Homo sapiens: one gene and its partner. The protein of the gene in region 2 interacts with the protein of the main gene of each other region in a biochemical or structural test. Each region holds a gene or a part of one and is shown on either strand. Other genes may lie near its edges.

Region 1 (15,805 bases), on a different chromosome or scaffold from region 2:
CAGATCAGCGGCGGCATTACATTCTCATAGGAACATGAACCCTACTGCAAAGTGCGCATGCGAGGGATCTAAGTTGTCCTTCATGAGTTTCATCCTGAAACTATCCCCAAGCCCAGCATCTATGGAAAAATTCTCTTCCATGAAACTGGTCCCTGGTGCCAAGAAGGTTGGGGACCGCTGCTGGGTGATACTGGCAGCACAGGTGTGTTTACTAGCAAGAAACTGAGGCTCACTAAGTTAACAACTGGCTCAAAGTCAGACAGCTGTGAGGTGACAGTGGGGACTGGAACTCGGGTTTCGTGGCCCCCACTGACCTTCTATCCCTCCTGATGCATCTCTCCTGGCAGCCCGAGCTCCCCGAGTTCCAGGTTCTGCTCCTCTGGTTGATGGCAAATGTTAGTTTCCAAAAAGCGCACCGAGTCCACCCATGACAAGTGCTCAAAACAGCCTTCCTTTTCTATGGTATGTCTCCTGGAAAGTCTTTCGTGGTTAATAATTCTGTTTGTGGTCATTTTTCTGAGCAGGTTAAGGGCTTCTTAAATCTTCATAGTTCATATTCACAAGCCCCTCGGAGGACAGCTTACCTCCCGCCAGGCCCCACCTGGTGATGAGCGGCCCGCACACGGCAGAGCAGTGGGAGGCCGGGAGCAGAGGCGGCCCGGAGCAGACAGCACGAGCTGGGGGTGGGGGCTACACCACCTGGAAATCTGTCCCACTGTCACACCCACGCTAGTTTACAGAACCTGGGCATGTGGCTCGAAAAAATGACAAGACATTTATGATGGGGTGGAGAGGAGGAGAGCTGCACATTCGGCACGACTCCTCTGTGCCGGAAACTGTGCAAGGCGCTCCATATATTTTTCTCATGGAACCCTCCAGGCAGGAGGTGGATGTTTTTAAAACTCCCATTATACAGATGAAGGAGCTGAGGTGCAAATGATGATGTAACTTTCCAAAGTCACATGACTCCTAAGTAGCAGGGATAAGAGTTGAGCTTGAATTTATGAGGCCCTAAAGCCCAAATGATACTCACTAGGGTTCACCCTAAGGAAGCGGAGAACACGTCCTCAGAGCGAGGATGTTACCTCTGGTTCAGTCCTGATTCTATTTTGGAAAGCTCATCTATAAATAGCTTCTCTCCTGCTTTCCACCTTTCCACAGGGAATCCACCCTCTCTCCTTTTATGGCGGCGGAGGGTCATTGGGTAGAAACCTTCCCAGGGATACTAGCTCTGAAGATTGTGGGTGAGTGCCCTGCCCTGGCCTGAGGTGGGGGTGGTGGGGATATGTTTCTGCCTCTTCCAGCCATTCCTGCGGTCTCCGGGGACCCAACCATTTGTCCCAAATCCACCCTAATTAGGGAAGAAAAAGGAACTACTCTTTCAAAGATCTGTAGATGCGCAGTTGGCTGCCTTTCTTATTCCTCTCTGCCCACTAATTCCAAAGGCATCTGACAGGGATGCCACTCTGGTGAAGATGACAGGAAGTTTCCTGCCGTGGAAGCAACTGCCTGTCTAAAAAAAGCTCTTTTTAAAAATGCTCAACTCCGAACTAAGAGCTTGCAGAGAATGTGTTATGGCTGCTGTTATTTATTTATACCACCGACTTCCAGAAAGGATTTTAAGTGGCTCACAATAAAAACACAGCTAGATCTGGGGAGAGATAGTACAAATGAAGAGCACGGTCAGCTGCGAGACTGGCTCAGAGCGCCCTCCACCCCGCGGTGGGCAGCAGGCCTCCGGAAGGATGCCCAGTAGTGAAGGGCCACGCTCTAGAGATAAAATCGTGTTTCTGTTTTTCTGCCTGACTGGGAGGTACAAGAAGTCTCCACAATGTGTTTAGGAGGGTGGGCCCCAGTTGAGGACTGGGGGTGACTCACCCCCATATTGGGGTGGATAGGAAAGGGCCCTGGAGGCCTGCAGGGAAGCCTCTCTCTCTTAGGCCAGAAGCCGAGGCTGAGACTAGAATTGGAATGCACGATAGTTTATGTGGGAGGAGATCCCAGGAAGCACTGGAAGAACAGAGTGGGCAGGGAAGGAAGGCGGCCAGCGGAGATCATCACTGTGGGCAGTCAGAGCTCGATCTAGTTGGGAAACTCTGGGACGTGGTTTAGAGGATACCTAAGAGTATCCTGCCCAACGAATAAGGAAGCTGGGGGGGTTTATCTCTCCACGTTCTGCTCATCAGTGGTGAGGGACCGCTCGCAGGAGTGGCAATGCCTCACATGTGAGCCATCCTGTAGGAATCCCGGTCACACCAGGGCGCATGTTCCAGGAGCGGCAAATGCTGTACGTTGTGTTTGTCCTGCCCTCCTCCAGGTTAGAGTGGGAGCTGTTTCACCTGATTACTAGGTGAGTCAGGGTCTGGGGATTGACTTGGCTATGCTAAGATACCACCTGGAGGAGGCGGAGGGGGACCCTGATGTAGCAGTTACTGGCCCTAGGTATTGCCATATAAAGTCGCTCACCTCATGACCTGGATCAAAAGTCTCCTCTTTCAGGAAGACCTCCCCACTCTCATCTCTTTTCCTCTGACTTTCTTGGAGCTACAAGATTGATTTATTCCTGGGTCACAGCTCTCTCCTCCTAGCTAGATGCCGCCAATGGCCCCAGCTTCCATTCTCCCTTTTTGGCAACCCTCTCAAGGGATTCTGTGTATAGTATACTGGTTAAAAGAGCTGCCCTGGAGTCAGACTGTTTAGGTTCAAGTCTCACCTCTGACCACTTGTTGACTAAGAGACAAGGGGAAAGTTATCGAGCCTTTCTGTACCTGGCTTTTGCATCTGTAATATGAGGGCAACGAAACCCAAATCACAGAGTCCTCATAAGGAATAAAAGAATTAGTATACTTATAGTACTTAGCATGGTCCCTAGTACATAGTAAATGCTCAATAAATATGAGATGTAATAATGATTACAATGATAATAATAAAGATTTTTGACCACAACCATCAATTACTGTTCATTATTTACAGACTCCTCAAGTGGCACTCAAGACTCCGCCAGGCTTTTCCCATTCTCACTTCCCACTTGCTCTCAACTCAACACAGTCCACCATTGCACAGCACCTGTTTTCTCTCATCTTCTCTTTTCGCCCCTTCCCACTGTGCCAGCCTGAGTTCCCTCATTTCTTAGGTCAAGACGCCCTCACCTTGATACACAGCTCAATACAGGGCCTGAAATGCCACTGAATGGTTGGCAATTAGTAAGTATTTCTAAAAGAAATAAATGGCATACTTTCAGGTATTGGTTATTCATCATGTTACTTTTCTGTATTGTCAGATGCACCCAGCATGGGGGCCAGGTCTCTGGAGGGTCAGTTAGTATCCAGTAGAAGGTACGTGTCTGGATGATGTTTCTGCCACTCCACTGCTGGGTAGATATTTTTGGGTTCCATCACAGCAGCTTTTCATAAATTGTCTCATTTCATCCTCCCAACTATTTCACATTATTCCCATTTAGAGATGGGAAAACTGAGGCTGAGAGACGTTAGGTAATTTGTTCACCGTCATGGGGCTGATGGTGGCTGAGTAGGACTTGAAGTACATTCGTGTGGTTCCAGGCCTCTGTTCTGGATACATGGGGTCACATTCCACTTTCTCTCCCAGGTGAAAATGAAAGCTCCCTTACAGTGTCCAGTCTTGTCCTGGCCTGTGTCCCTGCTCTGGGATGGGACAGTGTTCCCCAAACTCAGTGAAGACTGGTTGAGGTTAAGCCGAGACTCTCCCTCGGCCTGGCAGACATGCCAGTGTTTCTCCTGGCTGACACCAATGGGCGAGGTGGACCCCAGAGTGCCACCCTGGGTGTTGCTTCTCAAAGCCCGGCTCATTTGCTCTTCAGAGTCTGGTCTGCAGACCAGCAGCATAAGCAGCCTGGCAGCTTGTTAGAAATGCCCCTAGGCCATGCCTGCTGCACCAGAACCTGCACTGTAACGAGTTCACCAGGTGCTTCAGATGCACGCTGAGTTTTGAAAAGTACTGCTCAAGGTTCTACCTCTGCTTCCAGGTGAGCCAAAGTCTCTGAGCTCAGCCAGGAGACTTGTCTGTTTAAGGTGGGTGCCAGCCCTTCAGAAGCTGGTGCCACCCAACTGTGTAGTCTCATTTTCATCTGAGAAGCCACCTAGGTTTGTGCTGGCCCCAGATTCCATGGGCGCCCCTCTGGGCCTGCTCCTGGTCACCATTATTGTGTTACAGATACCACCAACATCCTAGCGCACTACACCCCATGCTCACCAAGAACTGCTCCAAAGCCCCGCCGCTCACTGTTTTTTTTTTTTCTTTCTGGTATCACTATTTTGTCTTTTGATCTTCAGGACCTCCCATGCTATCATTTTTCTAGAACACCATTCACCAAGCCAGCAAGTGCTACAATATTTGGATTTTGTTTTTAAAGTATGTTTACCATAGCATTGTAGGTGAGCAACCTAAGCTTTTTAAAGAGGCCAGAACAACATTCTAGTTGTATTAATTCATCAAATATCTACTGAGTGTCTATTACATGCCACAAGTTAGAAATATACATCAGTGAACATAATACATGCAAAAACCACTTGGAAAAATTAAAGCACCTCATGACCCCTCCACTGGCACAACCTAGACCAGCCAACATACACCTCCTACCTTTTTATCTCACTTCTCTTTTTCCTGCCTCTCTTTATTTCCAATCTCAGTGAAAGGCCATTCCTAGTGGAACGCTGGGAAGCAGAGGGGGAACATTCACTCAACTGGGCATGGGGCATGCCTACCCCAAACTTTTCTAGGCCCTGGCTTGGGGGTTTTGTACATGTCCTCTCACAGAAGGCAAACCTTGGCCCAGGGGATGGCCTCTTTATCTTGGTTGGATTTCACAGATGGATTGGGGTTTTTAAAAGATCAGGCCCCGTCCCCCTGGGTCCCTCCGTACAGAGGTCCGTCATGACCCATGTAACGCTTCACTGGCTTTACTTGTTTCCTTCACCAGATCAAAGTCTCTGAGAGCAGCACTGAATAGTTCATGTTGCCAGGGCTTAGAACACAGCCTGTCGTATAGCAAATACTCAGTTAATGCATCTAGAGTGAATGCATGTGTGCATGACTGCAGTGAGGCGGCACTCAGCCTACTCACTGATTGCCCACGCCCAAAGGCTACCTCACAGAAAGAAGTGGCTACTACATAGCCCCAGCTGGCTAGCATGCAAGCCCCTGCCAGGCCCAGTGCAAAGTGTGTGTGTGTGTGTGTGTGTGTGTGTGTGTGTGTGTGTCTGCACACATGCACGTACAAGGTTTCCACACTCCCAGCAGCCTGGGGCAGGAGTATCTCTTACCGTGGTGTATTTACCCAGCTGGCAGAGTGAAGGGAAAGTTTCCTGGTGAGCTTTTCGGATCTTCTCTGTGAGATCGTCCAACTCAGCTGTCATTTCATAGCTCTCTGTGCATTCTTGCTTCGAAGTCTCCTTCTTTTTCTTGTTCCTGTCATTCCTGACAGCTGGAAACGAGAGAGAAGGCACATCAGGGGTCGCTGAAGGCTGGGCCTGTGCTCCTGAGCTGGGAGGTTCCACCTCCCAAGGCTGCCTTAAGCTCATTTGATATTTGGGACAGAAACAGTGGGAAGAGGTGGTAATAACACACCTCCCTGGAAAAGGGATTTGGCAGCCGCGGGACCCCGGCAGAGAGCTAGGTTTGTCTTTCTGTATATGCATGTGCCCGTCAGTTGTTTGGAGAGCTTGGGCTCACCCAGGAGGCTCAGAGTCTTGGCTTGTTGTGAGAGAACTTTTTCTGTGGACTGGATCTCTTGAAGAGAGAAGGATTTTTCCAAGAGCTTTACCCTCAAATGGGATGCCCTGAGTGACATTGTAAGGGAAGGGTCAGGTCTCTGAACAAAGCCCCGTTACTTCATAATTAGTATTTCCTAGCTACACATTTTGGTGTCTTTGCTTTTTAGTTTTCTGAATTAAGTGACAGGCACTTTTGAAGAAACTCATCTGAGAGGAGATAAGGATGATGGTTTTTGTCCCTTCGTGTTTTTCTGCTTTCTAAACTTTCTGTATGAACCATATTATCTGTTTTGGAATATAAAATTACTTAAAAATAATAATTGATACAGTATGAAATCTTCAGCCTGGAAAACCATTCATTCCCTTATTCGCTGGTAGCCACTTGACTCCACGTTGTGTCTGGAACACTGGACCCACAGCAGGTGTGTGTCCTTTCCCTCTGCATGCTCCGAGCCAAGCACGGTGCCAGGCACAAAGTCAGGGCCCAGGACACAGTGCTATGGAAGCCCGTGCTTCCTCCTGCAGCACAGACCTCTGGGATGACTTCAAATCCGAGTGTAACTCAAAGCTCTAGCCCCTGGCTAGGATCTCGCGAGGAAAGAAACTGAAACCCAGGGAGGCAGACAGGCGAAACAGACCATGCCACCCCCTCCAGGGAGTCCATGTTCTCTGGGGCCCAGCGGGTGCCAGGCTGGATGCTGCCTGGCTGTGCATGCCACCACTGTGACCTGGGAATCTGCACTGCAAAATGACCCAGGGCATAATCTGATCTGCCCTAAGAGGATCTGGCCTGAGTTGCCTCCCTAAGAGCACACGGGTGATTTGAGAACTGGCAGTTCCCTGGGTCCACACCATGAGAATACCCATATTTGGGGTAGGAGCTGAGGGCAGAGTAAGACAATAGCAGGAGGAGAGAGGAAGTGGTGAAAGGAAAGAGCAAGGGGTGAGAAGGGGGAAGAAAGGAAAAAAGGGAGGTGAGTCCTACTACAAAGTCAGTGTCTGTACGAGCCACTCCTACCTAACCAGGAGGGAGGGCAGCTGGGGAGACCAGGAACATTTTTTTGAGTCCCTTGAACATGGTATCACGGTATCTCACTTGATCCTTTTATCAGGTAGGCAAGTTTAAACCCATTTTACAGATGAAGAAACTGAGTCTTGGAGAAGCTAAGAAATATGCTCAAGTTCACGTGGTTGAGAAGTTCCTTCCTCACTTGGACTCACTTACTTATTCCTAAGGAAACCAACAGGTCTGAAGAGAACACCCTTCTAGACAGTTTCCTTCCCCCAGGACTCTGAAATGACACTGCTCATTGGCTCAGAAAATTTCTAGATCACTGGTGAAATGAGTGGGAAGTGCAGCCTCAGCTGTATTCTTTCCCAGTGCAGACTGGCCCCTCGAGACCTCTGTGACCCGATCCCTCCCAGCCGGCGCAGGACGCTGGGTGAGAGTGGGTATCATGGTTCAAAGCAGAGAGAATGCAAAGAAGCCGGCGGGCAAAGGAGACACAATGAGGGGGAAAGGGGTCATGCAGGGTGGCAGAGGCGGCATGGTGGCTCTCCGTGAGGATGGAGTCTGGGCTGCTGAGGGGAGGGAATGCCTGAAGGCTTGTGTGTGAGTGCGCAGGATCTCAGGTGATCAGACCCCCCTCTTTTCCTCGGCCTCTGCCAATGGCCTTCCTTAGCTAGTGAAAAAGTCAAATCTAAGCAGGGAGGGTCCTTCTGAAACAGAGCCCCGAGGAAGAGTACTCGGCAGTTTTTCTCAAAGTTATACGCAGAGGTACCATGTGACGCAGCAATTCCTCTCCTAGGTGTACACCCAAGAGAACTGAAAATATGTGTCTATGCAAAACTTGTCCATGAATGTTCATGACAGTGTGACTCACGGCAGTTGAAAAGTGGAAAGAACCCAAATGTTCATCACCCGATGACGGGGAAGTGGAATCTAGGACGTCCTTATGGTGGAATATTATTTGTCATAGAAAGGAATGAATTATGGATGCATACTACAACACAGATGAAGCTTTCACACATACGCCTTAAAGAAGCCAGTCGCAAAAGGCCACACATTGTGTGATTCTAAATTATATGGATGTCCAGAACAGGCCAATCCAAAGACAAAAAGTAGACTCGTGGCTGTCAGGTACGGGGGCAAGTTGGTGGGGAGGGAGGATCGGGAGTGCTAACGGGTTCAGGGTTTTGTTTTTTAGGAGATGAAAATGTTCTGGACTTACTGGTGAAGGCTGCACAACTTAGTGGATCCACTACGCACCGCTGAATGGTACAGTTTAAAATGATGAATGTTATGCTACGTGAATTATATCACAAAACAACACCAACAAAAAACCCAGAGCCCTGTGGGAGGTGACACATCGCTAAATACCAGGAACTGTTTGAGTCGATTCTGAAGCTGAGATGACACCTACAGCTACATTAAAACACAGCAGCAGCCTCACTACCCTTTAGTGATTGTGTGGCAAGGGCCACTGGGCATCAGCAGGTGAAGAATCCTAGCTCGCGAAATCCCCACAGTAAGCCAGGTGAGGTGGGCCTTATGACCCCATTTCTACACTCAAGGAACTTGAGGCCCAACAATACCATGTTTGAAAATAGTCAACCCAATGTGCAGAAAGAGAAACCACAAAACAAACTAACAACCCACAGAAGGAGTCCCCATAATCCCATCCACAGGGAAGTCTGCAGGACCTGTGTCTGCTCCTAAGCATTCTGCTTCACTGTCCCCATCCACCACCAGGGGCCTGGAAAACTCAGACGAGCAAACCCAGCTCTAGAGGGTTACCAGGAGAGAGGAGACACTGTGAGCTGTCACCATGAAGTAACTGAACCAAGCAAGAAAGGGAGGGGTGAGGTCCTGTGGGAAGGGGCCCTGGGTGAGCTGCAGCTGGGCACCAAGTTGGGCATCTCTGTTGGGTTGTGCAGTGATCACACACGCCGTTTGCAAAATCACAACTGTGAAGCCAGAGCACCATTTTCTGTGCTTTGGGCCCAATTTGGAGCAGCCTTTGCAGCTCACTCGAAGGGGAGCAGTGTGTAACCTCAGGCTACTTTCCACACTCCTTTTGTCCCCTACGTGAAGTCCCACCACCACTGTCTATGTGAATAAAGGACTCCTGGGATTATCACAAATTCTTCCACACCCACAAAATGCAGGGACAACCCCTCTGGTGATGATGCCCCAATTACATACAGCTTCATAAGTTGACGGACAAATTTTCTAAACACGTGGCTTCAGCAGCTGCTTCCCTCAATGGTTTTAAACTCTAGAAGAACGCAGACGCAGTGTTTGAGAAGGGCTGCCAAGAACCACCAGAATCATGGAGGTGACACAGTGCACAAGAAGCCACGGGGGCCTAGGGATGGTAGCTTTGTCCAAGTTCTTGGGACTATTGGTCCCTTTGAGGCCTCGTGGTCAGTGGCTCCTGGGGCAGTGCAGGGACTCGTTCCCCTGGAGGCCAGCAGTGGGAGGCAAGGGCGATACAAGTACTGCAGGGGAAGTCAGGAGATCTGGAACTAGTGCTAGCTCCACCACTTACCACCTGGGGTCAACTCCAGAGGAGACAGCTCCTTTCAGAGCCTCCCCCGAGATGGCAGTAGCACCTGCATGGAGACACACAGATGGTGGGCTTGGTGGGAAGGAGGTAGACTACTGTAAAGGCCTATGTGGGTTAGTTATGCAGGAAGAATGTAAGGCCCTTCCGTGGGGGAAATGGATGACCTAAACACCAAGGACTTGTGGGGATTACTGTGGGGCCTGTGGCTGTCAGTGGCAGAGGAGACTGATATGAAAAATGGTGCTTGGAGAAGCCATCGCAGTGGCACCAAATGAGTGGGTGGATTCATTTGTTCCTTCATTGTTTTGTTCATTCATTCATTCAATGAATATTTATTGAGTATCTACTATGTGCCATCGCAAAACAGGATGGTTGTTGCTACCATGGAGCAAAAACTTATGGTAGCAGACAGACATTCATCATACAATAAAACAGTGACAGTAATAATAATAATAATAGAATATTGGCATCACTATTATTACATGTACTGCAATTAATATACGAGAGTATTATTTACCACAATACTGAAAGTGTTCATTACAACTATCATAAAGCCTTCTATTCATGGTAGGCCATTCAATCCTTACAACAACCTAATAGAGTAGATATCACTATTATACCCATTTTGCAGATGAGAAAGTGGAGGCACAGGAAGGTGAGTACCCTGCCTGAGGCCATGCATCCTGTGAGTGATACAGTCAGGATCAGAACTTAGGAAACCCACTGTGCTCCGCTGCGTCTGAGTCTACCCCATGTACACACAGTCCACAGCGTAGTGAGTACAATGAAGGATGCTACAGGGAGCTGTGCCTGTGTATTACTGGGTGTGGCAGGGGGATCCTACTGGTCCTAGATTAGGAAGCTAACGCTGGGGAATTGGGAGGGTAAATTGAGGGATGCTATGGGATGGTGGGTGGGGAGATGACTCTCTTCTCTGGGAGCGTGGGGTGTGCATCTGATGCTCAGCTCCAAGGCTGCCTGGGATGTTTGATGGTGGACCTCTTCTTTCACTCTGATTGCGACTGACTGGTATATGCACTCATATACCTATGCCAGACCTGGGAGTTTGACAAGCTGCTTTCAGGTACGGTGCACCTCTGGGAGGGAATGGAGAGGCAAAGAGAGGAGCAAACACTGTCAAGCCTGCATCAAAGCCCTCCCCTCCAAGTCTGTGAATATCTGAAAGGCAAGGGCCACATGTTACTTGTCTCTATGTCCCCAGGGCTTAATACAAGATCCGACCCACAGATGGGGGCCTCAAAACTGTTTTGCAAATGATAAGGTAGACATATAACTAAATGTGGTGTTCTGTCCACTGTCAGGGCCTATATGTGGCAATACAGAGTTCACCTGAGCCTCTTTCTTCCAGAACTTAAAGGTCTCACTATCATGTTGGGGTCTGCGGGGGAATCACTAACTGCTCTCCACCCCTACAGTAGTAGCCAGAAGGTTGATGAAGCAGGTGGGGCATTCAGGGGGTCACAGATGTGATTTATACACCTGATAGAACCCGGCCTGATGTTTGCAAAGCGCTTCTTGGATGAAAGGTGCTCCATAAAATATCAAGTATTCTCCTTGTGAGGGGCTAAGTGCTACAAATCAGATTTGGTGGCATAAAAGTAACATATTTATGATCCACTATCATATTGCAAATGAAATGAATGTAATAAAAGTGTCACTTATACAAATACCTCTGATGTACGGATCTCGACCTATGAATATGAAAACAGACACCCAAGCACTTTTATTTGAATGTCTAATCATGGAAATAAATGAAGTCATGTTCATTTTAATGTGTGCACTTGTGCATGTATCTGGAATATTGATTTTCAGGCACACAATAAAAATTTAATGCAGGAAACATGCAAAAGATGTAGATTCACTTGGATTCAGGAAGAGATGAAAACAATGCTTCACTAAAAATCCTTTCACATCAAAAAAAAAAAAAAAAAGGAAAATACAATTGATGGTATTTTTGTCCATAAAGTTCTCTATATTCAGCTTAGCAAAGGAAGCATGATGGTCTATTTATTCTTGCTTGAAAATTAAAGTCTGGAATTTGTTCATCTTGACTCTTCAGCTCCTTGCTAACTGCAAGAATAATGAGTTACAGTTGGTGATTAGAACTATGGGGTTGTCATGAGTTGGGGATGACCTGTAACTAACACACTGATATATTTAAAAGAAAAACATTAAAACATGCTTTAATTTTAGTTAAAAAATCATTTTCTAATCTCATCATGTAAACGAGCTACCATGGATCTGAAGGCAGGTGGATCTATTACTAATTGTTAGAGACTTACTTTTCCCACAACCTAAGGATTTAATTCAAGCATTTAACATAGCACGTCCCACTGTAAACTGGGGAGAGTTGGGGTGAGTAAACATTTCTTCTACATCAGAATCTGCCTGAAGGTGGGGACTGTGTCTTTTTCCTAATAAAGTGCCTGCCATGTGAATTCCAGTTGAAATTGGAACAAATATACAGAGAAAAAAGGTCAGTGAATGAGGCTGCAGCTAAGTTTTCTTGCCACTCATGAGACATGTGCCTTTTGGACCAGGCTGAGGGTAGGGTGCCGAAGAGTATGTGTTGAATGAATCAAGTTATTCCATTTCCAGGGACTTTGATTTCAGGGTTTGTAAAATGGAGGTCAAAATGGAATCCTAAGAGGACTGCTCTGAGTCTGCAACATGTAGCATATGTGCAAGTACTTCAAAAGGTGACAGGAGGCCCCTACAACCTCGAAGTCTAAGAGATGACCTGGTGTCCATTGTGCCAGCAATTGAGCAAGGAGCATGCTTAGAATTTTTACAGAATATTGAAGTCTTGGGGGAAATTAGTCTGGACACAGCATTCTGAGAGTTTAATATGATCTTCCAGCTTAGCTCAGCTTCTTAAAATTATTCAAAGAAGTTATAGAAAATCTCTGAAATATCAGAATATACAGACGTCAAATACTTCTTTGTGGTTAAAGTGGTATGTTATGCTAATGAAACTTTCAAAACAAATTTAATCATATTTCCCTCACTGGTTACTTTTTGATATGCAGATTTTACCTCTTCTTGTGTGGACAGTCTTTCAAATACTTTTTCCCTCCTCTGTCTGGGCTGGTAAGGGCAGCCCTACTGTGGTCGCATTCATTTTCAGACAAGCACGGTGTGGTGCGCGTCCTTGCAAGGCAAGAGATTTAGTTTTAGATGAAAAATCCTTTTCTTTGGACATATGAGCTATAAGAAATATCCTAAGTTCAATTCCAGAAATGAGAAAAAAGAAAATGTTCTGGCTTAATGTATAAAAGTAGGAACTCAACAGTGAGTAGTTGAGGGATGACATGAACCCCTGAGATGCTTTCCTTCATACCCGGCGGTGCTTCTTTGTACATTTCCTCTGGCAGCAATGGGCTATTCTCAATGATTACTTTGCCTAAATCCTGTCCAAAGAGGCACACGTGTCTGTGGCTTCGTGTTTGTGACAGAGCTACCCAATATGAATAAGAGCTGAGATGAAGCCTTTTATTTATGGCATAAAACTGAATGTTAAAAAAAGGAAATTAAAGACACTGTGGCTGGCCCTCTGCTTTTTAACCAGGAATAAACTCACACACTTACTGTATGATCAATTCACCTTGTTTTTAAAAAACCTCTGATCTAGAAAAAAAAAAAAGGCTTAGTATCTCTTCCATAATCAATTTTCATAGGCAGGAAATTCTTCGCTGTGCCAAACTCAAGTTCACTTCTGCTGAAGCCCAAGCTGCCCTCGTGTATCTGAAACACTGTGAGTGGGTCTTTTAACTTTTTTGAAAAAAGGCTGACAGTCTAAGGTTCAGGAATCAATAGTCTTCAAATAGGGGTCCCATATATCTAGGGTAAAAAAGTTGAGCAGGGTAAAAAAGTTGAGCAGGGATACAAGCACACTCCTTTATATTTCTTTCATGGAATAGGCATAGACTGCCTTTCAAAAACAGAATCTGATGAAGGGCAGGAGGGCAAAAAAGAAATTTCCCAGCAACAGACTGTTCCAGATAAGCTTGTATCTTGCTCTGTGTCATGTATATTCTTTATAACAAGTTATGGGCTTTCAAATATTAAATAACAGTCTCTATCATGATAAAATATAATGGCCGGATCTTTCATTTCTACTGTCTTTTAAAAGCCAATACATTTTTAGCAAATGAACTGAAGTTCTGCTTGACATTTTCATCATACATTTCCTCTTAAAATGTTATGTAAAATAGAAATGAAGTTTTTCTCAGCTTAGGAAAAGAGAAGCAGAAGTCCCAAGAGACCATAAAGAGGACAGCCCAGTTGTTCCAGCCAAGACCACACTAGATCAATCTGGAGCCAGCTTGAACCTCGGAAAGAGCACAGGTAAGATCAGCAGAGTTGCCTACCCAGTAGAGAGCCCAGTGAACCCAGAAGTACAACCCGACTGATCCATGGTGCTGTGAACAGTAACAAAAGCTTATAGTTTTAAGCCACTGAGCTTGGGGGTAGTTTGTTACACAGCAATAATCTGTGTAATACAGTCTGTGTAAAGAGTGTTTTTATGCAACAGTAACACGTGCCCAAATGCCTTTTATGCTACAGGATATTTGAATACATGGTTCCCTCTATTCAGCATTTGAGGCAAGAAAGAAAACAATTGGTCATTCCTACCACTCAAAGATCCCACCCACATCTGTTACAACACACAGAAATTATGGCACTGTTCCCCATAGGTCTTAAATAATATGAAAGAAACAATGGACAAATGGAAGGACCCTGGGATAAAATTTCAAAGGCCTGCATTTTAGCTCGTCATTTATTGTACTAACTATGTAAGCTCAGGATAGTCTCTTAATGTCTCTGAGCCTCAGTTTCCTTATCTGAAAAATGAGGACATCAGTTTTTGTTCATTGCACACAGGATCTCATATATATTTAGATATATACATGATTGCAACACAATGTAACATGAACAAAAATAGTGGGAGCCCTATACCAATTTGTTTATTCACCAAACATTTATTGAGTCCTGTAGCCACTAAAGAAACAGAGTCAAATAAAGCATGAGGGGTTCTCCCTTCAATAAATGAAATGCACATGATATATAATATAGAATATAAGGATTTAATATACACAAAAGCTTTGAGATGTGAAATGCTAAGGCAGCAGTGGAGGAAGGAAGGTAGAAAGAAACCAAGGAAGGAAAAAATGAGGGAGGGAGGAAAGAATTTTTATCCAAGATGAGACCAGCATTCCAGCCTGGTGCTCTATAACTAGAGATTAAAGGGAAGACAGAGTATGGAAACTGTCAGTTATTAAGCTTCCAGTGGGTTCACCTCTAATGTTAGGACTGTCTGTCTGAACTTGGCTTAGTGAACATTTATGGCCACGCTCATGTCCTTGGGATTCAACGTTTTCTGAGATTGCTTAATATACGTGATGGATTTCTGCCTGAGCCATCCACATGTCAATAAGACATCTGAGAGAGATAGACAAATGGCTTATAATTTTGCCAGATGTTTGCCAAATACCGTTAAGATATTAATGTAGAGAAGCTCTTTCATGTTGTCAATTTTAGAAATCCAAATCATTAGAGAAATGGTCTACATGTAGATATAGGTGTTTATATCACATAGTTAGTTTAAATGAAAAACCTCACTTTACAGCATTTCAAATGGTTTACGCCAGTCTATATACCCCTAAGTGATTCTTAATGAGGTCCTGGAAATGCTAAAGTTTCTAAGGATCTTCAGAATCACCACATATAAATCTTGTTCAGTATAGCTTTTGTTCTAAATGCATTCTATTAATTTTTAGAAAATTGGCAGTCTATGTATGAGATATATGCTAGCCCACTGTTGGATATGATTAGTCAATTAACTATAACCTTCTTTCCTAATCATTATAGATCTGAACAGTGTCTTATAACTGGGAGTGTTTTTCATCCATCCATCCATCTGTCTATCCATCCAAATAGACATCCAAGAAAGAATTGCCTGTTTATCCAGTCCTTCTGTCTACTCATTCATCCATGCATCCATCTGTCCATCCTTCCAACTATCCAATGCAGCTGCCCATTCATCTGTCCCATTTTCCATCCATTGATCCACCTATCCATCCATTTGTCCATCTGTCCATCCTTTCATCTATTCATCTGTCCATCTACTTGTCTGTCTGTCTATCTATCTCTGTCCATTCATCAATCCATCTATCTTCCTATCCATCCATCGATCCAACCAATTAACCATCCACCCATCCAACCATATATCCATCTATTTATTTCTTCTTCTGCTCAAATAGTTATTGAGCACTTACACTTTGTTTGCCATTATGCATGTTAAAGACACAAGAGTAAGAAGGTATCATTTCAAGAGATTCACATTCTAGTAAAAGACACAGTCATCTAAAGAAATAACTATCATGCACTGAGCTAGATGTCAGAAGGGAGATATTCATTCTTAGACTCAAGCAATATGAATTCAAAACCTAAGGGACAGGTTGT
Region 2 (16,353 bases):
CCATACCACCCTGAATGTGCCCGATCTCGTCTGATAGGTCTGCTGCGGAAGGTACTCTCTATGGAAGAACATAAGACCTCAGCACCAAAGTCAAGGTTTGGAGAAGGTACTAAAATAAAACCCCTATTTCCCATGGTCCTATTCTTTGCTTCTCTTTTCAGATTTTCCATTCTCCATGGGTAACATTATCATCTCAGTTTCAGCTACTACCTAAATTCTGATAACTACCTAATCTCTACCTCTAGCTCTGACTTCTCCCCCAAATTTCAGATTCAAATATTCAGTTGTGTACTGACTATACCCCTTCATTATCTACTCTAATTCAGCTCTACTCTTAATTCATCTAATTGGCAACTCTAATTCACCTCTTCTCCAGACCCACTCTTCTTCCTGTATTCCCTACCTTGATTGACAGCCTGTATAATCACCTAATTCAGAAACGCAGGTGTCATCTTTCTCGCTCATCTGTCCGCCAAGTCCCAAAACCAGTCTCTTACCTGACCCAACACAACAGCCTCTTAATATTTATCCCTCCATCCAGTCCTGCTTTCCTCAAATCCATTCTGACTCTGTTGTCATCCTTCATTCAACAAACACATGGAACACGTACCTTGTGCCAGACACAATTCTAGGGATTCACAGTAAACAAGACCAAATCCCTGCTCTGGTAGAACTTACATGTTATAGACTGAGGTCAACCCAGCAAAGCAAACCTGCCCTCATCACTTTCAGCTCTAAAATCCTTCAACAGGCCAGGCACGGTGGTGCACACCTATAGTCTCAGCTGAGACTGAGGCAGGAGGGTCACTTGCTGCGCTCAGGAGCTCCAGGCTCTAGTGCACTATGATCGTGCCTGTGTATAGCCACTGCACTCCAGCCTGGGTAACACAGTGAAACCTCATCTCTTTAAAGAATTTAAAAAATATATATGGCTGGGTAAAGTGGGTCACACCTGTAATCCCAGCACTTTGGGAGGCCAAGGTGGGCAGATTGCTTGAGCCTAGGAGTTCAAAACCAGCCTGGGCGACATGGTGAAACCCTGTCTCTACAAAAAAATACAAAAAACTAGATGGGCATGGTGGCTCATGCCCGTAATCCCAGCTACACAGGAGGCTGAGGTGGGAGAATCATCTGAGCCCAGGAAGTGGAAGCTGCAGTGAGCTGTGATGGCACCACTGCACTTCAGCCAGGGTGACAGAGTGAGACCCTGTCTCAAAAAATAGTAATAATAATAATAGAAAGCAAATAAAATCCTTCAACAGCTCCTTAATCACATACTGCAAAAGCTGAAGCTTCCAAAGTCCACTGGCCCACCGGTAAAGAACAGGATCTAGAGTTAGATTCAAATTTTTACATTCTAAACTGGGGCAATTACAACCCAACCTGAACCTAGGTTCTCTTTTGAAGGATACTGATGTCTTCCTCTCGAGTTGTTGGACAGATTAGAGACAATGTAAGTAATGCCTACAATGTCTGGCACAGAGTAGGTGCTCACTGGCCTGGCATATGGAACCCTCACAATCTGGTCTCTGCCTCTCTACCCATCCACAGTGACACTCTACAAACTTTATGTTCCAATAATTTGTAGATATACCTAATTCCCACACGTTGCAAATACACACACTCCCTCTCACCCACTCTGACTCTTTCTCTCCTGCTATGTGTTGTCACCAGCTCCTGCTTATGCCCTCTGTGATTGGCCTAACTCCTAGTTACCCTTCAAGATTCAGCTCAGAAAGCACCTTCCTCCAGGAAGCCTTCCCTGATCTCTGCCAGGCAGAGGTAAATGTCTCTTTTCAATGTTCCCATTGTTTCATAACACATACAATTATCTTCCAAACCAGGACAGTTGAGAGTGAAAGGAGAAACTATGACTAGACAAGAGGCAGCAACTGGGATATCTGTTTATGATTTATACAACTATGATAACACGTATCATGACTGTAGTAAAATTCTGTTCCTGCGTCTGGACCTTCTTCATCCCCAGAAGACCATAAGCCCTGAGGGGCAAACCTTATCCACCTCTGTATTCCAAGAACCTAAGTGCCAAGATGGGCAGTACTGACTTGAACAAACCTACAATAAACCCTGGAACAAGCTACTAATGTTCACTGCCACAGATAACATTTCTTTGATACTAATTAAATGAAAGCTGAGCTGGCGAATTTTTATATCTTTTTTTTTTAAGAAGCATGACTCAAATAGTAACTACCAATTATTTAAACAGCAATCAGAAATAGCCTGAGAATTTAAGACAGGGGAAACAGAATCTCTAAAGGGAAGTTACATCAAAAGATACAAAGTATTCTTTTTTATTAAAACTGTTTATGCCTCCAGCTCTTGGTATAAGAACAAGTCAGCAGTGTTCTATTCCTAGTCTCTTTCTAGACTACATTTTTTTTTTTAAGTATCTCTTCTCTTACTTCAAAGGGGAAAAAAATGTTTGATGTAAGAACTGGTCAGTCATGAATCAAAGTAAAAGATAAAGCATACAACAAAGAGTTTCTCGAAGCCAGGGAGAATCCATTTAGCGTCCTCGATTTAAAGGGAAATCCCCTTGGCTATTTCTCCCAAACAAACTGTTTATAACAAGTTGGAGGATTTATATCCACTCAACCACATAAGGTCTACTTCTTACACCTAGAAAAGACAATACTACAAAATGTGTGAAAGAAAGACTATTTTTCAACAGCATAATTAACATCTGCAAAAATCAATCTCCTGGGGTACACTATACTGAAATTCTTAAGAATCTTCTTTCCTCTACGAAAGGTTTTTTTGTTGTTGTTGTTTTGTTTGTTTGTTTTTGAGACAGAGTCTTGCTCTGTCGCCCAGGCTGGATGGAGTGCAGTAGCTCGATCTCGGCTCACTGCAAGCTCCGCCTCCCGCGTTCACGCCATTCTCCGGCCTCAGCCTCCCGAGTAGCTGGGACTACAGGCACTCGCCACCACGCCTGGCTAATTTTTTGTATTTTTAGTAGAGATGGGGTTTCACCGTGTTAGCCAGGATGGTCTCGATCTCCTGACCTCGTGATCCGCCCGCCTCGGCCTCCCAAAGTGCTGGGATTACAGGCGTGAGCCACCGCGCACAGCCTACAAAAACAATTTTTAAAAGGATTCCCAGTAACACTCTAGTCACCAATCTGAGTGGGGTCAGGAGCAATCTGAAAGCGTTCCCATGGAAGTGCATACAATTGCCATTGCAAGCACTCCAAATTCACCTGCCCAAAGAGAAGTGTTCAGGTGTTCTAATCAACTGTCCTACGTTCCCTCCTAGTCAAGTTTCTCTCAGTCCAGTGTACGCTCTCACAAATTCTCCAGTACAGTGTTACAGCAACTTTTTTTAAACATTAAGAGGACTGGTTTTTTCTTTTGTTTTGTTTTTGAGACAGAGTCTCACTGTCGCCGCTGGAGTGCAGTGGTGTGATCTGGGTTCACTGCAACCTCCACCTCCCGAGTTCAAGTGATTCTCCTGCCTCAGCCTCCCGAGTAGCTGAGGTTACAGGCATGCACCATCACCATGCCTGGCTAATTTTTGTATTTTTAGTAGAGACGGGGTTTCACCATGTTGGCCAGGCTGGTCTCGAACTTCTGGCCTCAGGTGATCCGTCTGCCTCGGCCTCCCAAAGAGCTGGGATTACAGGCGTGAGCCACCGTGCCCGGCCTGGGACTCTTAAAAAGTTCCCCCTCACCTACCATCCAGTCCCATTCAAAGAAATGGAAAATTCTAAAACAAAAAACACACACAAGATACTCAAATTGCATATCACATTCTCAACAAGTCCTTTTTCTTTTTTTCTTTTTTTTTTTTTTTTGAGACGAGTCTTGCTCTGTCACCCAGGCTGGACAGTGGCATGGCCTTGGCTCTCTGCAACCTCCACCTCCCAAGTTCAAGTGATTCTCCTGTCTCAGCCCCCTCAGTAGCTGGGATTACAGGCGTGCACCACCACACCCGGCTAATTTTTGTATTTTTAGTAGAGACTGGGTTTTACCTTGTTGGCCAAGCTGGTCTAGAACTCCTGACCCTGTGATCCACCCACCTCGGCGTCCCAAAGTGCTGGGATTACAGGCGTGAGCCACAGCGCCCAGCCTCATTATTTTTTTAGAGTCAGGGTCTCCCTCTATCACCCAGGCTGGAGTGCAGTGGTACAATCAATCATTGGGCACTGCAGCCTCCAACTCCTCGGCCTAAGCTATCCTCAGCCTCCTGAGTAGCTAGGACCACAGGTGTGTACCACCATGCCCAGCTCATTTTGTTGCTGTTGTTGTAGAGACCGGGTCTATGTTGCCCAGGCTCATCTCGAATTCCTAGCCTCAAGTGATTATTCCACCTCAGACTCCCAAAGTCTCGCAAATCCTTTTTCACATGTATAACAGCACCACAAAGTAATTCCTACTCATAGGCTGGGCGCGGTGGCTCACGCCTGTAATCCCAGCACTTTGGGAGGCCAAGGTGGGCGGATAACCTAAGGTCACGAGTTCGAGACCAGCCTGACCAGCATGGAAAAACCCCATCTTTACTAAAAATAAAAAATTAGCCGGGTGTGGTGGCAAACAAACGAAAAACAAACAAACAAAGTAATTCCTATTCATATTACTATTTTTAATGAAGAGCCTTAGAAGAAAAAGAGGAATAACTTACCCTGATAACCTGGCTTGAAGTTGAGTCAATGATAAAACAGAAATAGCAACCTCGATGTTGAAGTTCAGACCACGGTAAATTCGAGAATCTAAAGAGACTTAACAGTGGACCCCAAATTCCTAAAGTCAACTAGTAAGAGCCAACAGAACTTTGAGACAAACAGATTTCATAATTCTGTCAAGACATAAATAACACAAGACTTAAAAGTACTTTCACCTACCTCTAACAAGTAAAACTCTGGCAAGCAAATTTCCTTGGGTGCCCAGGGTCATAAACACCCGCATAACAGGAACGCCAAGGAGAATGTCAATGAACACACAAAACTCATTGTCGAGGAGGAGAACGAGAGCTCTCTCCCACTCCCCATCAGGCCTATATTTGTTTCCAGGTGCAGAACCGTTAGAGAAATCCTGAAATTTCTACAAGATCCTGAAAACTAGCCCAAGCTTCCAATTTTGACTCAATCAGAAAAAAAATATTTCGGAACCTCAAAATCTTCAAACTTCACATGCCAGGCCAAAATAAACTGAAGCACAAAACTTCAGCATACAAACAATTGCTATTTTTGTTCCCTGGGCAACAAATGACTAGGGAAGAGGATAGCAAGCACCAATGAAAATTCTGTAGCCCAAATTCCTTCAGTTTTTATAAATCTGTAACTTTTACAGACTTCGAGAAAGAAAAAGGTGTACTTCAGGTTTGTGTCAACCCCCCCAATACAGTCTATTTTTTTTTTTTTTGCACAACACCTTTGAAGCAGAAAACTCACTTCAAAATAAGAGAGAAAATTAAGTCTGAGCTTCACTCATCATTAAAACTGAATTACAACCATTACATATAAACTACAGTGTCAAGAGACACTTATGCTATCCGCACCACAACCTCGCTGTGTGACAGATCTTAGGAACTGACATCTTAGTATAACCTGTTACTACTGGTATCAGCAGATAATTACCCGAATATGTCTCAAAGTGTCTGAGCTTTGTGGGAGTAATCCAAAAGGAAGCTATTTCACCTGCAAGTCCTCTGACGCTCTGAACACAAAATTCACAACCCCCATCGGTTGAACGAGACGGCTTCAAACACTCAAGTTACGCTCTCCCTTGCTAAATCCTCAGTGAACAACGTCTCCCAACAGAGATACTTTGTCTTTGTCCAACATACATTCTTTGCAAAGTGGATTCAGTTCTCCTCAAAATACCAATTTCCAGTCCAGCTTCTGAAGGCAAACAGCCCAGTCTGCGTTTCTCAAAGTGGGGTCCGTGAGCCACTGCGTTTGAATCACCTGGGAAGCTGGTGAAAGCGCAGATTCCCAGGCTCTATCCCAGACCCTGAGGCTCAGCAGGTCTTACGAAGGGCCCTAGGAGTAGCGTTCCTAACCGCCTCCCAGGTGTCGCCCACAGGACACTAAAGTTAGAGAACCGCTGCTCAGGGTTCAAGCTGGGAGTAAGCACTTGCTTCCCTCCACGCACCTGGTTTAGATTGGGAAAGCTCAACATGCCATTGGCGTCCTTGAATGTGGGGTCGCTTTTCCACCCCCGGAGTCAAAGGCACCACCCCATTACCCACCAGGAAGCGAGGGAGGAGCTTCCGACCCTTCCCGGAAACCCAACTCCCCCGGGTGAATGAACGAAGCTGCCCCAGACCCCCAGACGCTGCCAAATAGTGGGGGAGGGGACGCGGGACCCCGCTGCCCAGAGTGGGAGGAGCCGGCCTGCCAGCTCGCCCCTCCGCCGGAATTTAGCTGCGCGGGGCGGGGGGGGCGCGAGGGCGAGCGGAAAAAGGCGCCACATCCCATCCCGGCGGAGCGCTCCCCACCCCTCGCCTTGCGGGGCTGTCCCGTTCTTAAAGGAAGATGGCCCCGCCCCCTCCCGCGGTGGGCAGGGCCTTGCCCCTCCCCCCCCAGTGGGGGGGTGCGCGGCGAGCCCCCCCCACCCCGGGCCCCACGGAGCCCCCCTCGGCTGTCCGCCTCACCAGGCGCGCGGCCTCGGCCCACGTGCGCTCCTTCTTCTTCTTCTGTTTGTCCTTCATCCTTCTCCCCGGCGGCGGCGGCAGCTCCACGCGGGACCTCCGGGCTGGGCGGGCTGGGGCGGTGGCGCGGGGCTGGGGCGGCGGCGGCGGTGGGGGGGGCGCGTGGCAGCGGCGGCGCGCGAGGTCTCGGGTGCGGCCGGGGAGAAGGGGCGGGCACGCGGGGACCGGCTGGCGCGAGAGCGGCGGTGGGGGAGGGGCGGCGGCGGCTCCACGCGCCCGCGCTGCGTCAGTCGCCCACGGCGGCAGCGGCGGCTGCCCCGCGATCGCTAAGGAATGCGGCGGCTCCGCATAACCACGGGGTCAGAGGTCACGGCTCCGGCCTCCGCTTTCCCGCTCTGCTGAGGGACTGAGACAGGACCGACGGCGGGGCGGGAGGGCGAGACGCGGCTTTCCCTTCGGCGCCCGGGTGCGTGCGTGTCTGCCGTGGGTGTGTGTGAGTGTGTGTGAAGAGTGAGGAGGGGGAGTGTGGGGTTTTTTTTTTTTGAACAAAAACAAACCGAAAGGGCGCCTGGGAGTCGTAGTCCCAACGGCCTCTCTGGCCTCCCCCGCTCCGGAAGAATATGGCCGCGTGAAGCGCGTGGACCACACTTCCCGGCGTGCCCGGCGGCCCCCTTCCGCTCTCCCTCTCGCGTCCTCCGCCTAGCACCGACCTCAGCTAGGAACGGGGACGGGTCGCTGTTCGGGGAAGGGGCTGGGTGGAGTCTCGCGAGGTGCGAGAACTGGCTGGGGGCCTGCGGGATTCTGGGAGGCGATGCTGGGAAGGGGCGGTGGCTGGGCTCCCCCGGCCACCCTTAACCCCTTCGGTGCTTTTTGCTTCAGGACCTCCTGGCGGGTGCGGGTGGGGAGTGAGGATGGGGAGCTCGACTCGCAGTTCCCACTTCGTGCTTCTCCTCGCCTAAACGGTTCTTACCTACACTTCTCGTAGGGGACGAGAGGCAGGACTTTCCCTTTTGGTCACCTCTAAATGACTCACTGCCACATAATAATGAGACAAAAAGACCCTCATACCAGTAAAACGGTTATTCCACGGCTGATGGACTTAGACGGTTCTTCATTTCTTCCTGTGCTTTCAGGCCGCTGTGTATTTGCAGAGCCTGCACCAGCAGCCTAGAGCGTTCTTAGGAACTTGGTGATATGTTGACGGGTCGTGTAAAGAACTTGGACTCTGGGGCCATACTGACCAGAATGCACCTGAGGGCGTTTTTAGAGGCAGTACCCTGGAGAGAATTCAGGCCCTGGAGTCCAGCGGACCTAGACTGGAATCTTGGCTGAGTCACTCCCTGGCTGTCCACTCAACCTCTCTGAGCCTCAGTTTTCTGATCTGCATTTGTCTTGTATTTCATGGCATTATTGGAATTAAAATTAACATACAATTCTTGACAGATTGGAAGAGGATGTGAAGGGAGATCTTGACATTATCAGGTCCGTATGATATGGCGCCTGGCATAGAGCAAATGTTTAATAAATGGTAGCTGTTATTACCAGCTGAGAAACAATAGGCAATATACTTAGCCTCTCTGAGCCTTAGTTTTAGAACCTGAAATGAAATTCAGAGCGCCCAGCACATAGGTTTTCTGTAACTATAGGTTCAGTCGTTGTCCAGAAACATTTCTAGAGTCCGTCCGGAGTTGGATTGATGCCAGCTCTTAAAAACTATGAAGGCAGGATCAGTGGCCACATTTAAACGGTTTCCCTGGGTGAGGAAACACACTCTCCACTCCCTAATGTTAACACGTAGCGAGAGCCAGTATTGATAGGAGACCATTATGGTGTAGCCCAAACTCTAACGCCAAGGGGTTCAGTGTTTTCTGCTTCTAATACTGGTCACAGAAAACTTGTGAGTCCGGTAAGCAAAATCCTACAAAGGGAAAAGACTGCAAGTTAGAATAAGACACCTCTTAAAAATCTCTCTAGCTTTACCCTGAGAGAAAGGAGGAACTACTGTCCCTCAAAAAACTGTTTGCCTTGATTTTTTACAAAGGATTTTTAACTTCTTTTTTTTCAATCTACGGCTGATACAGTACTCTTTGGCAAGTCATTTGGCTTCTTTCCGATGTCTTCTGAAGTAGCTTTACTGCCCTCTGACCTACAGGGAATAACTGAAATTTACATGTTTAATACAGGTACTGTGGTAGACAGAATAATGTCTTCCCCGCTTGCCCAAAACTGTCCAAGTCCTAGTCCCTGGAACCTGTGAATATGTTGCTTTTTTATTTATTTATTTATTTATTTTTTGAGACAGAGTCTCGCTGTGTTACCCAGGCTGGAGTGCAGTGGCGTGATCTTGGCTAACTGCAACCTCCGCCTCCTGGGTTCATGCGATCCTCCTGCCTCAGCCTCCCAAGTAGCTGAGATTACAGGCATGCGCTACCATGCCCAGCTAATTTTTGTATCTTTAGTAGTGACTGGGTTTCTCCATGTTGGCCAGGCTGGTCTTGAACTCCTGACCTCAGGTGATCCACCCATCTCGGCCTCCCAAAGTGCTGGGATTACCAGCCAGCATTCTTTGGCAAAAGATATTTTGCCAATGGAAATAAAGCCCTTAAAATTAGATGATTCCGTATTATATGGGTGAGCCCAGTGTAATCACATGAACCCTTAAAAGCACAAAAGGGAGGCAAAAGAGATGTTTTGGAGAGATGAGGCAGAGGAATTAAATTCAAAGTATGAGAGGAATTCAACCCACTGTTACTGGCTTTGAAAGTGGCCACAAGCCAGGGAATCCAGGCAGCCTCCAAAAGCTCAGAGGAAGTCCTGCCAAGAGCCAGCAAGGAAATGGGGACTTCAGTCCTACAACCTCACAGAGCTGAATTCTGACAAGCTGAATGAACTTGGGAACAGATTATACCCCCTCCCCAACTCTCTAGAAAGGAATATAGACACCTTGATTTCAGCCTCGTGAGACTGGAAGCAGAGAATCAGCTGAGCCATGGAATCCAGACGTCGGGCCCACAAGAAGCGTGAAACAGAAATGAATATTGTTTTATGACACTAAATCTGTGGTAACTTCTTACAGCCCCAAAAGAAAGCTAATACAGGCATTATGGAAACACCTTTATTTCTTTCAGCGAACACTGCCTGACTTCAGCTGGGTCAAACCATGGGGGAATCCAGATTTGAATATTTCAAGGTCTCTGCCCTTGCAGAATCAGACAGAAACAAGTGACAACATCGTAGTTAAGTGTGAAAACAGTATGTTCAGAGAACGGTACAGATATGTTAGAAAGTTGGCTTTAGTCATTAAACCTTAAGTAGATGTGATTTTTTTAAAGTTAATGAGATTCATGAGTTTATTTTCTTGTCAGAAGCACCAACAGACAAACCTATACATTTTTGGTGTGTGTTTTTCTGTTTTTTAATCACAGTGCTTTTATTATAGATTATCTTCAGAAGTTAGTGCAGGTGGCATGTGGAAGATAAACAGGACAGACACTCAACCCTGCCTAGTTTGGGGATGAGTCACTTTTCAAACTGCACAGTTATAAGCAAAGTGCATATTCAAGAACCAAGTTAACAGGCCACCAGCAGACACCCAGGAATTCCCAAAGGGACACATATATCCCATAAACTGCACTGCAAGATAATATATTCTCATTGGCTCTGCATGTCAGCAGGCCTGGGTTTGAATCTCTGCAGTCTTTCTCCATCCAGTTCTGTGGCCTTGGGCAAGTTATGAAACCTCTCACTGACTCAGTGCCGTCATTTGGACAGCAGGGTACATAGCAAATTCAAAGAATGGAACTGAGATTAAATGAGATCTCTGTAAAGTGCCTAGCACATAGCAGATACTCACTAAATACCAGCCCTCTTTGCCTCCAAAAAGTTTTAGTGTCTAAAGTGTAAAAAGTGCCTCATTGTTTATACTTTGAGTGAAAGAAACCTTGGAACAGGGTTTGCCCCTGTAACAAATGTTCTCTCTCAATAATATTATCCCCGTTTTCACATGAAGCTGAGATTCAGAGAGGTCAGATTACCTCCCTTGGGTCCAGATGATTAAATAAGATTACATTTGCTAAATAAACTTCCAGCATAGCAGATGATCAGTACATGTATAGCTCTCCTTGTCCCTCCCACATTTAATTTATTTGTGTGACTTTGGTTTAGTGATTGTGTTCATGCTAGCATCTTTGGTTTCATCATCATATCCCCAGTGCCTGGCACAGTCTTGGCACATGGTAGGCACCCAATCTGTTGAATAAATGACCCGATCTCCGTAATTACTTTACTGGAGAAACTCTGAAGACTAATTTCCCTTTGAGCCCTAAACAATGTTTGGAACCTGCTCAGGGAGAATCGGGAAAGACCAAGACAGGATTTCACCCAAATATATCTATGCAAGTTATAAAGATGCTCATGGATAGAGAGCATGACTTCAGCTGGGCGTGGCAGCATGTGCCTATAGTCCCAGCTACTCAGGAGGCTGAGGCAGGAGGATCATTTGAGCCCAAGAGTTTGAGGCTGCAGTGAGCCATGGTTGCGCCATTGCACTCCAGCTTGGGTGACAGAGCAAGACCCTGTATAGGAGACTTCATGACCTTATTATTGTCATTAAGTCACAGAATCTGCCCATGTGATGGGCAGCCCTAACTCATAGCTCACCTTCCATTCACCATCGTTTAAATCCTGCTGTTCAGTCTCCCAGTAGGGAGGAAAACGTGTTTAAATTACCAAAATGTCTTTTTCGTTTGTTTGAGACAGGGTCTCTCTGTTGCCTACACTGGAGTGCAATGGTGCAATCTCAGCTTATTGTAGCCTTGACCTCCTGGGCTCAAGTAATTCTCCCACCTCAGCCTCCCAAAGTGCTGGGATTGCAGGCATGAGCCACTGTGCCTGGCAACAAAATGTCAATAATGGTTACCTCTGGGTAACCATCAGACTATGGCAACTTTTGATTGTCTTTTTTTTTTGAGACAAGGTCTCACTCTGTCACCCAGGCTGGAGTGCAGTAGCATGATCATGGCTCACCGCAGTCTTGACCTCCTGGGCTTAAGCCATCCTCCCACCTCAGACTCCTGAGTAGCTAGGAGTAGGTAGGGCCACAGACACATCCCACCACCCCGAGCTAATTTTTTTTTTAAATTTTTTGTAGAGACAGGGTCTCGCTATGTTGCCCAGGATAGTCTCGAACTCCTAACCTCAAGTGATCCTCCTGCCTCGGCCTCCCAAAGTGCTGGCATTACAGTTGTGAGCCATGGACATATTACCTTTTGTTTTTGAGATAAAGTCTTGCTCTGTCATCCAGGGTGGAGTGCAGTGGCATGATCTTGGCTTATAGCAACCTCTGCCTCCCAGGTTCAAGCAATCTTCCTACCTCAGTTGGTGGGATAACAGGCATGTGCCACAACACCAGGTTAATTTCTGTATTTTTAGTAGAGACAGGGTTTCTCCATGTTTGGCCAGGCTGGTCTCAAACTCCAGACTTCAAGTGATCTGCCTGCCTCAGCCTCCCAAAGTGCTGGGATTATAGGCATGAGCCACCACGCCCGGCCCATATTACACTTTTTAATTGAAAAAAATTCTTTTTCATTTCAACCGCAAAACATAGAACATTTAGATTAAGGTAGTAGCTATGGGTAATATTTTTTCTTTTTTATATTTGTATTTTCAAAACCTAGAATTAGTATGTGCTACTTTTATGATGGAAAAACAAATTCCATTCTTAATGCAATATACCTCAACAATGTGAAAACAACTTTAATAATTATTAATATTTTTATTTTGCTTAAAAAGATTTGTGGGACCCCCTAGAATGGCCTCAAAGGAAGGATAACCTGAGCTGCTTTTTACCGAAATCACGGAAAATGGCAGCTCTCTGATGCTTTAAGGTTTTCAAGTATAGATTTCAGGACCTCAATAAGGTACCCATCCCAATTTTTAATCTCTCTTAATAATGCAGAGATTTACTCACATCCACCATAATGCTTCTGGCCTCAGTTTAAGCCATTTCCTCTATTATTTCCTCTGTGAAAGAAGGAAAAGAACCTTTAAAATGTATTTTAACATCAAAATGCTGAGCGGGTGGTGTGCCCAAGTGATGAGAGCGGTGAATGGGTTATTTCTTTGTTTCCCATGATTTATAATAAAAACATCAACTTACACCCTACCCTAAATGACTTTTCTTCCTCTAATAACTAAATGTGAAGTTGGGGGCTTATATAAATGGCTTTTCACAGGACTTAACTCTTGAATTCCAAAACCATCATACGAGGTGAATGAGAAAAGTGGGCCAGTAAAGAAAAGACACTTTCCCAAGATTGCACAATTGGTTGTTGCTGGAGTCAACATTTAAACCCCAAGCTCCTCATTCCAAGTTCTTTCTAAGGCACTGTGGTAGCCTTAGAAATGGCCACCTCCTCACATTCATATCCTTTTTTAGTCCCCTCCCACTTTGATTAGGGCTGAACTCTGTAACTGTGGAAATGAGCATAAGTGGCTTCTGGGGCTAGGTCAGAGAAAACATTGCAGCTCTGCCTTGTTCCAGGTCACATGCTCTGGGGGAAACTAGCCACCATGTCATAAGGACACTCAAGCAGCTTTCTGGAGAGGTCTATACGACAGTAGCCCCAGACAAACTTTCACATGACTTCAGCCTTGGCCAACATCTTGCCTACAACCTCACGAAAGACCCCAAGCCAGAATCATCCACATAAGCTGGATTCCAGACCCACAGAAACAGCGAGACATGATATGTTGATTTTTTGTTGTTGTGGTGGTGGTGGTTTTTTTTTTTTTTTTTGGTTTTTGGTTTTTGGTTTTTTATTTTTTTGAGATGGATTCTCACTCTGTCGCCCAGCCTGGAGTGCAGTGGTGTGATCTCAGCTCACTGCAACCTCTGCCACCCGGGTTCAGGCAATTCTCCTGCCTCAGCCTCCCAAGTAGCTGGGATTACAGGTGCCTGCCATCGGGCCCAGCTAATTTTTGTATTTTTAGTAAAGGTGGGGTTTCACCATGTTGGCCAGGCTGGTCTTGAACTCCTGACCTCATGATCCACCTAACTTCAGCCTCCCAAAATGCTGGGATTACAGGTGAGGGCCACCGTGCCCAGCCGAAATGTTGATTGTTTTAAGTCACTAGATTTTGAGGTAATTCGTTTCACAGCAATTGACAACTAATAAAGACAGTGTCTCCCCTTCTGAGTGGTGCTTACCTTTTGTGAAGCCTGTTAAAAAGCAATGGACTCTCTTTCCAGAAAAACTTATACCTATTTATATGAAATTCTCTATAGTGTTCCAAGGTATTCCTGGCCCCTCTTGAAACCCCAAGAAATACAACTACATGTCCCAGTTTATGGAGTTAATAGATGCCAGAGCCAGGATTCAAACCCAACTACCTCAACTACACAGCTCACATCCTCTGCCCCTTTGCCGTTCTGCCTTCCTGGAGGCCTGGGTTCAGAACCACTGCTCTAAGTTAAGTTGTCCTTACATCTTCATCTTCCTTCTGCATTCTATCCCTTTATTCTTTTTTTTTTTTTTTTAAGAGTGAGCAGCAGCAAGATTTATTGTGAAGAGCGAAAGAACAAAGCTTCCACAGCGTGGAAGGGGACCAGAGTGGGTTGCCCTATCCCTTTATTCTTGCAGGTCACATTTCTCTGGACCCATTTTAATTGCAATTCCTGAGTGACCCATTGTGTATTAGGTCCCAGCAAAAACACAAAGACAAGCTCACTGACTCCGAGGGCCCCTGGTCTAATGGGATCTTAGAGATGGAAATAAATAACTGTACACATTATTAAAACCTATTATCTTAGGTCCTTTTGGACAAGGAGGCAGCAACAAACTCCGAGAGGGCAGCCTTCACAGAGGAGCTAATACTTTAGCTGGGCCTTGAAAGCCCAAAGGAAAGAGGGTGGCTCAGGTGAATTCTGGGTAGAAGTGCCAGTGAGTATGATAGGGAGTGGTCTCCATGGGTCTGTGTGTGAAAGAGCAAGTGTGTTCACTTGGGGACAGGCCAGCAGTCCAGAGGGGCAGGAGCAGGAGACAAAGCCAGAAAGGTGGGCTGGGCAGATCCCAAGCAAAGTCTTGACCACCTCCTGTAACAACCAGCTCAATAGAGCTATGATCTGAGCTCATATATTGGCTCTTACCCAACCCTGTGGCCCCAGACCCAACAGCAGAGGCCCTGACACAGGTGTTTGTCAACGTTTTCTGAATGAATTCATTCAAGCAGAACTGGGTGCTAAGACTGGTCTGCAGTTGGGGCAGGGAAAGCAAGACAGGGTTGCAGAGTCACCCTTGATGTCTCCTTGAATGTCATTTCTTTGGCAAGGTTTTGCCTGATTTCCTACATTCATTAAGCCGTCCATCCTCCCATACCACTCAATGCGTTCTTCAACATATAATGAAAAATCTAATTCACTCTTGACATTAATGATGACTTCAATGTCTACTCCAAATTAGACAGTCAGCCAGATGATGTAAGGGACTGCTTGCTTCTTCACTGCTCTGCTCTCCATCCTAGAGGAAAGACTCCTCTATCCCAGAAAACAACAGTAATACAGCATGGGGCACCTTCTTCCATTGGCACTGATAGCCTCTTACTGGGATGCCAGCCCTGTGCTGAGCCCTGGGGACTTACAGCCTAGATAGACACAGTTCCTGTGTTTACACAGATGGATTACAAATGATGGCAAGCCAACGTAGTAGGTGCCCTAGCAGATAGAAGCCTGGGGTGCTGTTAGAGTTGACAGAAGGGGATGTCTGAAAGCTGACACCAGGTAGGGGAGAAATTAGTTCCAAACTCAACAATTATAGTCACTTTGGGTGCAAAATAAGCATTCAAAAATGAATAACTTTTAATGTACTACTAATAATTCCATTAGAAAATGGTGCGATGAGGGCCAGGCACAGTGGCTCATGCCTGTAATCCTAGCACTTTGGGAGACCAAGGTGGTAGGGTTGCTTGAGGCCAGGCATTCAAGACCAGCCTGGGCAACATAGTGAGACCGTGTCTCAAAAAAAATAAGAAGAAAAAAAGAAGGAGAAGGAGGAAGAGGAAGAAGAATAGGGAAAAGAAGAACAAGAAGAAAAGAGGAAGAGGAAGAAGGAGAAGGAGAAGAAAATAATAATAATAATGGTGAGATGGCTGGGCACAGTGGTTTGCACCTGCAATCTCAGCATTTTGGGAGGCTGAGGCAAGGGTATAATTTCAGCCCAGGAGTTCAAGACCAGCCTGCACAATATAACAAGACTTCATCTATACTAAAAATAAAATAAATTAGCTGGGTATGGTGATGCACACCTGTAGTCCCAGCTACTTGGGAGGCTGGGGCAGGAGAGCTGCTTGAGCCTAGGAGTTCAACATTGCAGGGACCTCTGATCATGCCATTGCACTCCAGTCTGGGCAACAGAGTGAGACATGTCTCAAAAACAGGAAATAGGTTGGGAGAAAAAACCAAAATGGGTTGGGAGAAAAAAAAATGGTGGGAAAAAAAGGATTCCATTCACAAGAGCAATTAAAATATTACATCATCTGGGCTGGGCACAGTGGCTCACACTTGTAAACCCAGCACTTTGGGAGGCTGAGGCGGGAGGATCACTTGAGGTCAGGAGTTTGAGACCAGCCTGACCAACATGGTGAAACCAGTCTCTACTAAAAATACAAAAATTAGCCAGGCATGGTGGCGCATGCCTCTAATTCCGGCTACTTGGGAGGCTGAGGCAGGAGAATTGCTTGAACCTT

The links.
Region 1: the proteins of ASXL1 (region 2) and RARB form a complex in vitro, tested with the Homo sapiens proteins (one study listed by IntAct).

What each region holds. Positions count from the first base shown.
Region 1 is NC_000003.12:25,559,414-25,575,218, reverse strand, and holds part of RARB (retinoic acid receptor beta), read right to left. Parts: intron 5,462-15,805; coding exon 5,301-5,461; intron 1-5,300. UniProt on the Homo sapiens protein: Receptor for retinoic acid. Retinoic acid receptors bind as heterodimers to their target response elements in response to their ligands, all-trans or 9-cis retinoic acid, and regulate gene expression in various biological processes.
Region 2 is NC_000020.11:32,349,095-32,365,447, reverse strand, and holds the start of ASXL1 (polycomb group protein ASXL1), read right to left. Parts: upstream 7,118-16,353; 5' UTR 6,673-7,117; coding exon 6,616-6,672; intron 6,463-6,615; exon of another isoform or gene 6,435-6,462; coding exon of another isoform or gene 6,211-6,434; exon of another isoform or gene 6,141-6,210; coding exon of another isoform or gene 6,114-6,140; exon of another isoform or gene 5,597-6,113; intron 4,739-5,596; coding exon of another isoform or gene 4,642-4,738; intron 1-4,641.